Linked DNA regions of Homo sapiens. The protein of the gene in region 3 purifies or fractionates together with the protein of the main gene of each other region. This does not show direct contact. Each region holds a gene or a part of one and is shown on either strand. Other genes may lie near its edges.

Region 1 (3,749 bases), on a different chromosome or scaffold from region 3:
AAATAAATGATCTGGTTTTTTCTTTTTCTTTCTTTCTTTTTTTTTTTTTTGAGATGGAGCCTCGTTGCCCAGGCTGGAGTACAATGGTGTCGTCTCAGCTCACTGCAACCTCCGCCTCCCGGATTCAAGCGATTCTCCTGCCTCAGCCTCCCAAGTAGCTGGGATTACAGGCGCCTGCCACCATGCCTGGCTAATTTTTTTGTATTTTTAGCAGAGATGGGGTTTCACCATGTTGGCCAGGCTAGTCTCAAACTCCTGACCTCAGGCGATCTGCCTGCCTTGGACTCCCAAAGTGATGAGCCACCGCACCTGGCCTGGTTTTTTCAATAGACAAATTTTAAAAGGGAGAGAGATGTCTTTGTATCGGACGTCAGGTGCTATGTTTGGGGCACCTGAAGATTATAAGATACTCAAAAAATACTATTAAAAGAAAAGCAAAACTGAACTGTAATATTTAGGGATGCATACCTGGGTAATAAAGCAATACAGAAAAGCAAGAAAGTGACTGCATAAAAATCAGAATAGTGGTAATTACTCTTAAGGGGAAGAGAAGGAGTTGTGTTTGGAAGACGGTAGTATATCATATAAACAAATTTCTCAAGCTCTTCTCATTCTCAATAATGGTATAGTATGATGAAATGTAGAATGCAGAGCCAAAATGTAGAAAGAAAAATAATACAACTCAAATAAAATGGTCAGGTGCAATGGTTCATGCCTGTGATCCCAGTAATTTGGGAGACTGAGGTGTGTGGGATTGCTTGAGCACAGGCATTCCAGACCAGCCTGGCCAACATGGTGAGACCTCATCTCCACAAAAAAAAAGAAAAAATTAGCCAGGCTTGGTAGTGCATGCCTGTGGTCCCATCTAGTCTCAGGTAGAGGTGGGAAGATCTCTTGAGCCCGAGAGTTGAGGCTGCAGTGAGCTAAGGTGGCACTACTGCACGCCAGGCAAGGTGATAAAGCAGGGCCCTGTCTCAGGCAAAAAAAAAAAAAAAAAAAAAAAAAAAATTCTATCACTTTTAATTACATTTGAAACTTTACGAAATGCTTCCATAAGCAAGGACCAGATGCAAGGTTTGCAGATAGTGAAGTACAGCTCGTGCAAAGTGCTTTGTGAGCACATGCTTGAAATAACTGCTTGTAAAATTGCAAAATTGCTGAATTGAATTTAATGCTCAAAAAGAAAAATAATATTTGATGTCTCTAGAATACATATATTGCCAGAGACTACCTTATTCCTTGCAGTTCCCTTTACTGTGCTCTATTTCACTATCCTAGTATATTTTAAACATTTTGCTAGCCACACCAAATTATTCCAACTACCTTTTAAATGTTGGTGCCCATCAGGATTTTGCTCTCTGGTCTCTTTACTTCTCAATTTGGCACTTCTTTGTTGGATTCAACTATTAACTCTAATGCTCTTTACTTGCAAAATTAGAACCTCCACTGAAGTCGTTTTTTTATTTTACAGCTCCAGGTGTCTACGGAGCATCTAAATCTGGATATCCCATGAGAACTTCAAACTCAAAATATCCAAGAGATCCATTAATATTCCCTTGTGCTGACCTATAACACTGAATCACATGCAGTAGTATTTAGTTGATTCTACCGCTAAAATGTCAAACAAATTTGCCCAGTTTTATCCAACCCTCCTATTATTGGCCTTCATTATCTTTCACCAAGACCAGGTAAATTATCTAATTTCTCTTGGCCAGCTTCTCTTGCTCCAACCAAAGGACAACTTTGGTTGGAGCAATTTAAGCAAAACTCAAATTGTTTAACTGCCTTGATTCTATACCTTGCATGTGCAAATCAAAGTATCTTTGTATTAGACATCAGTTTCCTTATTTGTAAGGTGGGACAATAATATTCCATGAGATTGTAAAAAGTTCTATCATAAGAAACGTCAACAGTAATATAATATAGCAATTAATAAATGCCCACTTACTTCTTCTCACCATTATCTCACTGGGGAATATTATAAAAACTATCATATATGGTGCTAAGGGTTATATGTTGATTAAATAATTTAATCTTCACAACAGCTTTATGAGGTAAGTATCACTGCTACAATTCCAACTTTAGAGATGAGGCAAAGAGAGGCTATTTTGTCTAAGATTACACATCAAGACAAAGGCAACACTGAATCTCAGATTTAGGTATGCCTGAGTCCAGACTGTGATAACCAACAGAATATACCAACTCTCAAACATATTAAATTCTCATTACAATGGAATTAACTTCATCACCTTCAAACTGTTGAAACAAGATTTTAAATAAAAGAAAATATTAATAGAAGATTAAAGAAATGTACAGTGTAGCTATATACCAATATGAATGCGATGATAAAATGAACAGTGCAATCAAAATATTTTAAAAATACACATTTTCAACTAAACATAGTTTTACATAACTTAAAGTGCAACACAGTTTTTCTTAATGGTAGGCCATCCTCCAAGCCCTAATCGTTGTCTCACTGTTTCCTATAATACTTTGCAGGTGCTTCTGCAGTTTGCTGTGCTTCTGCAGTTTGCTTTCCTTCCTGTCAAGAAATCACAGCATCAAAAACATGCAAAAAGCTCTACCTTTTTACATATTTTGTGGTTAGCCAACAAACTAATGTGAGCTCAGTCAACGATGTTTCAACTTCCTTAATACTGCACAACTGCAATGCATTTTTGCTGCTTTAGAGTGCTGCAAAAACATCTATGACATCTGCATTTCTAAAACGATAACAATTTGTTGTTTTTGAAACGTATTTTCAAGACTGTTCTTAAAACCATATAGTAATTTATACCTGTCTAAATAATTTCTTATTTTCATAGGTAACATTTTTAAAGTATATGGGCCTTTCAACAATTTGCAGTCTTCAGAGAAATGACATTTAGATTTTCTTGGGTCTATTCAGGACCCAATCTTGTAAACCATTTCACTAGAAATAAAAGTCTGCTTTGTTCTTTATTAAGAAAAAGAAAATATGGAAGAAGCCAATTAAAATTTATTGCATAGGATAGTGTTTCCAAACATGCTTTAAAGATAGAAACCCTTACTAAACACAGTTAAGTGAACTGTGACATATACGACGGATTCGATGGGACAACTCTGACAGAAGCCAAGATAGAAAATACAGAGCCCTATCAGCCTGACTTTTCATTATTCATAATGAGGTAGGAGGTGGAATGTGACTCTGGACCAGATTGAAGACTGACAGAAACAAGGAAGAGGCAACGAAAGATCCTCTCCGTAAGACACACCCACCAGCACCATGACAGTTTACCATTGCCATGGCTACACCCAGAAGTTACCATCCCTTTCCATGGCAATGACCCAGAAGTTACCTTCTGTTTTCTAGAAATTTCTGAATACCTTGTCCCTTAATTTGCACATAATTAAAAGTAGTATAAACATGGCTGCAGAACTGGCCCTGAGCTGCTACTCTTGACACACTGCCCAGGGGTACCCCTGCTCTGAAGGAGAAGTCACAGAGCTGTAACAACCCTGCCTCAATAAAGCTGATTTTTCTACCACCAGCTCACTCTTGAATTCTTTCCTGAGCCAACCTTCTCGGGCTAAACCCCAATGTTCGGATTCACCTGCCCTGTAATAATTTCACCATAAAAGTCAATAAAGCTTCATGATGCAACCCAAAATGTCTATTAAACATCCAGAATCCTTACAGAAACAGAAGGCCACACTAACATGAGGCCAACACCCCTATATAAAAATGATACAATGGATCTTATTTTTAT
Region 2 (3,749 bases), on a different chromosome or scaffold from region 3:
ATTTCCCTGACATCTCAGAGCAGGGATGAATAGTGTAAGATTCTCCCTGGGACCTGAAAGCTTAAGGAGATGAACAACTCATCCCTTCTCAGGCCCAGTCCCAAGGCACAAGGCTACTTGTACCAGCAGTGTGCACCAGCAAGATAGCAGAAGCAGGAAGAGAGCCGGCCGGAAAATACGTACCCCTGAAGATTGAGAAAGAGGCCATCCAGGTACAACAGAGCAATTATGTCAGACTAGGACACTTCCTGTTTACAGGAGACTATAAAACCTTTGTCCCATCCTCACTTGGGGCTGATGCCATTTTAGGCCTCAGCCCACCTGCACCCACGCGCTCATCAAAACAGCATGTTGCTCCTCACCACCTCATGTTGTCTGTTGGTGCGCTCTCAGGGTTCCAACCGATACAAGAACCGTACATCTGGTGCTGAAACCCGGGAGAGGTTCTGGTCCACGTCCCCTGTGAACCTACCCCTCCACCCCAGACAGCAGGCCACAGCAGCCAGACAAAGGAAGCTCCTCGATCTCCAGTTGCCTCTCTGTGCATGCACATTGGTCACTGATCTTGCTTACTGGTAAGTTTCCTCAGGGGCCCAGTTAGCAGGGAAAATTCACACGGCCTCTCTTAGTTTCTCTGGTCCGAATATCCAGTGTTGGTCCAAGAAGGCGCCGGCGTGTGCCAGGCACTCGCTGATCATCTGGTCTTAGGGGGATGCCTCTAAGCCATTTGATCGTGTTCCAGGAACGAAAAAGGCAGCGGTGACAGTTGCTCCTTTTATCATCTCCCTCCAGGATGGTCTCCTTTTTCCCTGTTCTCCTGAGCCTACCCTCTGTTATGGGAAACTCCGGTCCTCCATTCCAAACAACAGCCCTCTAGGCTGCTTCATAAAAAACCTGCAAACCTTAGGCCTCAGGCAAGATATTCGCTCTAAGTACCTGTCTTTTTTGCAATACAGCCTGGCCACAGTACAAATTAAATAATGGGTCCAAATGGCCTGCAAATAGAACATTCAACTTTACAATTTTAACTGACTTAAGCAATTATTGCCGACGACTGGAAAAATGGGAAGAAATTCCTTATGTCCAGGCCTTTTTGCACTCAGTTCACAACCCAACCTCTGCAATTCTTGCTTACCTGTTCAAATCCTTCCCCTCCATTCTCACCGCCCTGATCGCCTTTCTCCTCCCGACCCTACCTCATTTTTCTCGTTCGATCCAACTGACTGCTATCCACCCCTCCCAACCCCTACCTTTTCCTCTCAACCATCTTTTTTAACCCCCCAAGCCTCCTCGTTGTCTTCTCAGCTGCCATCTTCCCAGCTGCCATCTTCCCAGTCAGCTGTATCCACTTCTTTTCCTACACCATCCCCTCCTCGGGACAATTCTAGTATTGCCTGTACCCATTCTCCTCCCCCACTGCCCTCTCCTAAAGCTTGTAAACTCATCCCGCCACCTTACGCCCCTGCCTATCCTCCACTGCCTGTTAACCCTCCTTCCCCCTTCAAACCCTCAGAACGAACCATTATCTTAAACCTTCGGTTCATCTCCCAATCCACCCCCGATATTCGGTGCAAGCTTCAGAAGCTTGATGATGGCCCTCAAACCTCACAAGACCGTCTTAATTTAGCCTTCATAGTCTTTAACAATCGTGATAGGGAAAGTAAAAGGCAAAAACAGGCGGAGTTTCAAATGCTTGCCTCCGCCATCAGGGGCCCTGCAGGCCCACGGGTCCGCAGCTCCACACGGAAGCCTCCTAGCAACCTACCTCCACTTGGCACCTTTTCAAGTGCGGCAATGAAGGCCACTGGTCCAGACAATGCCCAAATCCAGGTAAGCCCACCAGGCCATGCCCCCTCTGCAGAGGACCCCAATGGAAATTGGACTGTGAGCGGCCCCTGCAAGGGCGGCCCCATCACTTCCTAAGCCGGCCAAAACCTCCTACTTGGATCTCATTGGCCTTGCCGCTGAAGATTGATGGTGCCCTGGAATGGATGCCCCGGCAACTACCATCGCTTCATCCGAGCCAAGGGTAACCCTGATGGTGGCAGGTAGGCCAGTATTTTTTTTTTAATTAATACCGGGCAAACTACTCTGCTTTACCTAATTTTTCAGGACACACCCAGTCCTCCCTTTTCTCCGTTGTGGGAATTGACAGACAAGACTCCAAACCCTGAGCCACCCCTCCACTTTTCTGCTCCCTGCACACCTTTTCCTTCAGTCACCCTTTCTTAGTCCTGCCCTCATACCAGAGACATCCTTTCAAAACTCCACACTACTCTCCACTTGCACATTCCCCATAGTACCCAACGCATCAACCCAGACCCCTCGGGGCATCTAACTTTCTTCTACTCCTCCAACCTGCCACCTTAAAACATGCAACTTTACCTTATCCCCCATCCGTAGTTAACCCCGCTGTTTAGAATATTTCCACACCTTCAGTCGCAAAACACCACACCCCCGTCCGCATTACCCTTAAAGAGTCCACCCAGTTCCTATCACAGAAGCAGTATCCCATCCCCCAAGCAGCTCTCATAGGCCTAAAGCCTATCATTTCTCGCCGCCTCACCAGTCACCTACTCCACCCAAGAAACTCTCCTTTTAACACACCAGTTCTACCTGTTTAAAAGCCAGATGGAACTTATCACTTAGTCCAGGACCTCAGGCTCATTAACCAAGCTGTACTCCCAGTATGTCCAGTAGTTCCTAACCCATATACTTTACTTTCTGCAATTCCCTCCAATACCACCCATTTTCCTGTTCTATACCTAAAGGATGCTTTTTTCCACAATTCCTTTACACCCTGATTCCCAAAACCTCTTTGCCTTTACATGGGAAAACCCCGACACCCACCTTTCACATCAGCTCACCTGGTGCGTACTACCTCAAGGTTTCAGAGACAGCCCCCATCTTTTTGGACAGGCCCTTGCTCATGACCTCTGTACCTTATCCCTAAAACCGTCCACTCTCCTTCAATGTGTTAATGATCTGCTCCTGTGTAGCCCCTCTCAAAGAGACTGCAACGCCCATGCTATCTCTCTCTTTTAAACTTCTTGGCAGAACGGAGGTATCGGGTCTCCCCTAAGAAAGCACAAATATGAGCCCCCTTAGTCACTTATCTAGGCCTGGCTCTTACCCCATGAACCCGAGGGCTCACAACCGACCACATATCCCTCCTCCAGTCTCTCCCACCTCTGCAAACTAAGCAAGAAATTCTCTTTCCTAGGACTAGTGGGATATGTTAGGCTCTGGGTTCCCTCCTTTGCTCTACTTGCCAAACCATTATACCAAGACACTAAAGGCCCTCTCCATGAGCCTTCAAACCCTGCATAGCCTATTACCCAACCTTTCCATCTACTCCAGAAGACTCTCATCTCAGCCCCCATCCTCACTCTCCCAGACCTCACCAAACCTTTCTCCCTCTATACCAACGAACGTGTAGAGTTGCACTAGGTGTTCTAACCCAGTCTAAGAGACCCACCCTCCAGGTTATCGCCTACCTCTCCAAACAGCTTGAAGCCACAGTTCTCAGATGGTCTGCCTGCCTCCAAGCACTGGAGGCAGCTGCTGTCTTCATCCTTGAAAGCCTAAAACTATCTCTCCATGCCAACCTAACAGTTTATTCAACCCATAATATCAAAGACATGCTAGCTCACCACAGTGTACTAAGTCTCATCTCTGCCCCACGGCTCCTCCAACTGTATGCTCTGTTCATAGAAACCCCCCAAATCACCGTGCTAACCAGCTCTCAT
Region 3 (3,749 bases):
AGAGCAAGTTCCGGTTTTTGAAAAGGTGGAATAAAGAGGAAGAAAACTCCATTACTCCTGTTTTAGATGATCTGGTAAAATGTTCTCTATCAGCATCGCATACAGAGGTCTATTACATAGATCATCATATCTCAAATAATTAAATTCACTTGAGGGTCAGAAAAAAACAGATTCTTTGTGTAGAATCATTTACTGAAGAATTTAAAGGATTTTTCCTTGGGCTATCTCAGTCAGATTGGAACAGCTAGAGCCAGGGAAAATATTTCATAACGAGTCTTCTTGGTATATTAAAGTGCACATAACAGAGCGAGAAACTTTGAAAAATAACTTCAATATCCATAATCCTATAATTCCAAGGCATTTTTCATTTTTTCTTTTTCCTTTAGGAAGGTGGTTTTTTAAAGGGACTTTTGTTTTTAACTAAATGAGCTTAAAATAATGTGATTAGAAACCACTGTAGGCTGGGCACGGTGGTTCATGCCTGCAATCCCAGCACTTTGGGAGGCCGAGACAGGCAGATCACCTGAGGTCAGGAGTTCAAGACCAGCCTGGGCAATATGGCGAAACCCCGTCTTTACTAACAATACAAAAAATTAGCTGGGCGTGGTGGCAGGTGCCTATAGTTCCAGCTACTCAGGAGGCTGAGGCACGAGAATCACTTGAACCCGGGAGGCGGAGGTTGCAGTGAGCCAAGATCCATGCCACTGCTCCCCAGCTTGGGCGAGAGTGAGACTCTGTCTCAAAAAAAAAAAAAAAGAAAAGAAAAGAAAAGAAAAAACCACCGTACGGTGGCTCACGCCTGTAATCCCAGCACTTTGGGAGGCCGAGGCGGGCAGATCACGAGGTCAGGAGATCGAGACCATCCTGGCTAACATGGTGAAACCCCGTCTCTACTAAAAATACAAAAAATTAGCCAGGCGTGGTGGCGGGCACCTGTACTCCCAGCTACTCGGGAGGCTGAGGCAGGAGAATGGCGTGAACCCGGGAGGCGGAGCTTGCAGTGTGCCGAGGTCGCACCACTGTACTCCAGCCTGGGTGACAGAGCGAGACTCCATCTCCAAAAACAAAACAAAACAAAAAAACACTGTAGCACTGTAGCTTTTGGTTATCACACCAATGAATTCATATCTGAAATTAGAATAAGAAAATCACCAAGAGGACTATTTCATATATTCGGCTCAGGAGTTTTGTTTTTAGGAAACAAAAATCCCCACCACCTGCTGTTTTCTTGCTTTCTCTATCCCCTCCCCCACGATCACAGGGTCAGTGAAACCTGATCAGAAGTGTCCAGATACCGCTGTCCCAGAAGCCACTTTAAAGACTCTTTGGGCAGAAGCTCTGTGGCTTCCACCCCTCTTCCCAACCCTTGCACCCACCGGCAGGAGAACTCACCATGCAGAAGCAGGACCAACATCCCTCGGCCTTTCATCCACCCAGTGGCTTAGGACCACCCAGCCGTGGGACCCCTACCTGAGGGGAGAAAGGACAGGTCACCCAGTGCCCAGGAGGGCCCCATGAGAACCCTCCCATGCCTCCACACTTCTTCCTGAATGCCCTGCCTTTCTTTCTTCCTCACATTCCTTCCTTCTTAATGACCCTGGTGTTGGGCTAAGGGAAACCAGTAACAACAGAAAATCAGAAGCTCCCCACAAATGGACAGTTTGGATCTATTAGGAAACCCTTTGTCAGGCTACAGCCCTGACAGCAACTCAGATGGCATCACTGACAACCCAGCAAGGAAATGGATGGAGAGGAAACCCCTGCAGAGAAGCGTTAGTGAATGGTCCTCAAATGTTGCTTACCGTCCTGGGAGTCTCCCTGGTCCTGCTCCTCTGAGGTCCCCCTCCACTCCCTCAGCCCATCCATCTCCCAAGTCAGGCAGCCACAGATGCTGAAAATGGTTTGAGAGAGAAGTAAAGGTGGGGGTGGGGGGACGGGAGGAAGGGGTGAAGAGGAATAGTTACTTGTGCAGGTTTGAGTGCTTATTTTTCTTTCTCCAGATTTAATGGCAGGAAAATCCTCTGTATCACATGAGGATTAACAGAGATGAAAGAATGTGTCTGCCTTTCGAATCACTAAAGCCAGTGACAGATTTTGCTGACATACCAATCGGCTTTATCCCCGGGCCTTGACCACCCTGGCCCTCCTGTCCTCTCTCCATCTGCCTGGCCCCTTTCTCTCCTTAAACCTTCCCCAGACCCTGCCCCGTTCCCTGACCCCAGCCCCAGCCCCAAGCAATATGTAGCCTGAAATTGGCTTCCTGCCACCCAAACAGCATTATCAGCATTTTCAACAAGGACGCATTATATAACTTGGAGAGCTGGAGAAGGGACAGGACAGCTTAAAATGTTTCCCCAAAATGCCGGCTGCTGATTTCCTTTCTTTGAAGTGGTTGATGGTGAATGATACAAAAACGGACTGGAGAGAGTCCTTCCACTACAAGAAGGCAAGAGGTTCCCACTGGGGTTAGGGCTGGTAGTGGTGGCCTAAGGCAGTGGGTCCAGGAATGGGACCTTCAGAATCTGGCTGAGGTTTCTGAAACCCACCAGGACTCAGTTTAGGCCCTGGCTACTCAGTGTGGCCGGTGGACCAGCAGCAGTACCTGAGAGCTCGTTAGGAAAACAGAATCTCAGCGCCTTCTACCCCCCGCCCCAGACCTGTTGAATCAGCATCTGCTTTTTTTTTTTTTTTTTTTTTTTTGAGATGGAGTCTCACTCTGTCGCCCAGGCTGGAGTGCAGTGGCACAATCTTGGCTCACTGCAACCTCCACCTTCTGGGTTCAAGCGATTCCCCTGCCTCAGCTTCCTGAGTAGCTGGGACTACACCATGCCCAGCTAATTTTTTGTATTTTTAGTAGAGACGGGGTTTCACCATGTTGACCAGGATGGTCTTGATCTCTTGACCTTGTGATCCACCCGCCTCGGCCTCCCAGAGTGCTGGGATTACAGGCGTGAACCACCGCGCCCGGCCAGCATCTGCATTTTAACTAGGTCGGCGGAGAGGGGGATTCCTGTGCCCGGTAAAGTTTGGAAAGCCCTGTTTTAGGAGACTGGTGGAGGGGGTCTGATCAAAATGAGGGTGGCAGGGGGGCCTGTTTATCTAGCCTTTCTGGCCAGCAGTTCAGGTGCCCCCACATTCTCCTGGCCCCAGCAAGCCTCTGCTGTCTGCTGGGACAGCACTTCCAGGTATCCATGGCAACCTGCCAAGTTCTGGCCACGCAGGACTTGGTGAGCCAGTGCTGATGAAAGGAAGCCAGGAGTTCCCTTCCCACAGAAAGGGTTCTGGATGTGAATCTAGACATCTCAGGCCACCGTGCCCTGGGGAATTTTTGTTTTCTTCCATTTGAGCCTTGAAAGCCAAAATGTGGCTGAACTTGTCTAACCTGCTGGAAAGAAGAGAATACTAGGGATGGGGTAGGGATGTGGGTGGGGGAGGCCTCTCAAATGACATCTCTATCCCCAGTGTTGGACTCGCCTGGCTTATTAGATGAGAGCAGTGGGCAGCCCTCTCATTGTGACCACCAGTGTCGGAGGTGTCCCTGTAGCCATCACCCCAAGCCTTAGCCCAACGAAGCCCCCACTCCCCCAGCAGCAGTCCAGAGGCTGAATCTCGACTGTAAGAGCCAACCTGTCTGCACCCACAACCTTTGTTCGCAGCTTATTGGTCCAACCTTCCCTTCAATCTTCTCCAGGCCAGTGGGCCTGGTGCTCTGGCACTGGGATCCCACTAAGGAAGACCTTCTTCTCCAC

What was found.
Region 1: the proteins of NYX (region 3) and EMB purify together in Homo sapiens (affinity purification with mass spectrometry; 3 studies listed by BioGRID and IntAct, with this or other methods). This does not show direct contact.
Region 2: the proteins of NYX (region 3) and COX16 purify together in Homo sapiens (affinity purification with mass spectrometry; 2 studies listed by BioGRID and IntAct, with this or other methods). This does not show direct contact.

The regions. Positions count from the first base shown.
Region 1 is NC_000005.10:50,413,549-50,417,297, forward strand, and holds part of EMB (embigin precursor), read right to left. Parts: intron 1-3,749. UniProt on the Homo sapiens protein: Plays a role in the outgrowth of motoneurons and in the formation of neuromuscular junctions.
Region 2 is NC_000014.9:70,344,619-70,348,367, forward strand, and holds part of COX16 (cytochrome c oxidase assembly protein COX16 homolog, mitochondrial isoform 1 precursor), read right to left. Parts: exon of another isoform or gene 1,710-3,749; intron 576-1,709; exon of another isoform or gene 517-575; intron 1-516.
Region 3 is NC_000023.11:41,445,570-41,449,318, reverse strand, and holds the start of NYX (nyctalopin precursor), read right to left. Parts: upstream 1,977-3,749; 5' UTR 1,803-1,976; exon of another isoform or gene 1,471-1,802; 5' UTR 1,415-1,470; coding exon 1,393-1,414; intron 1-1,392.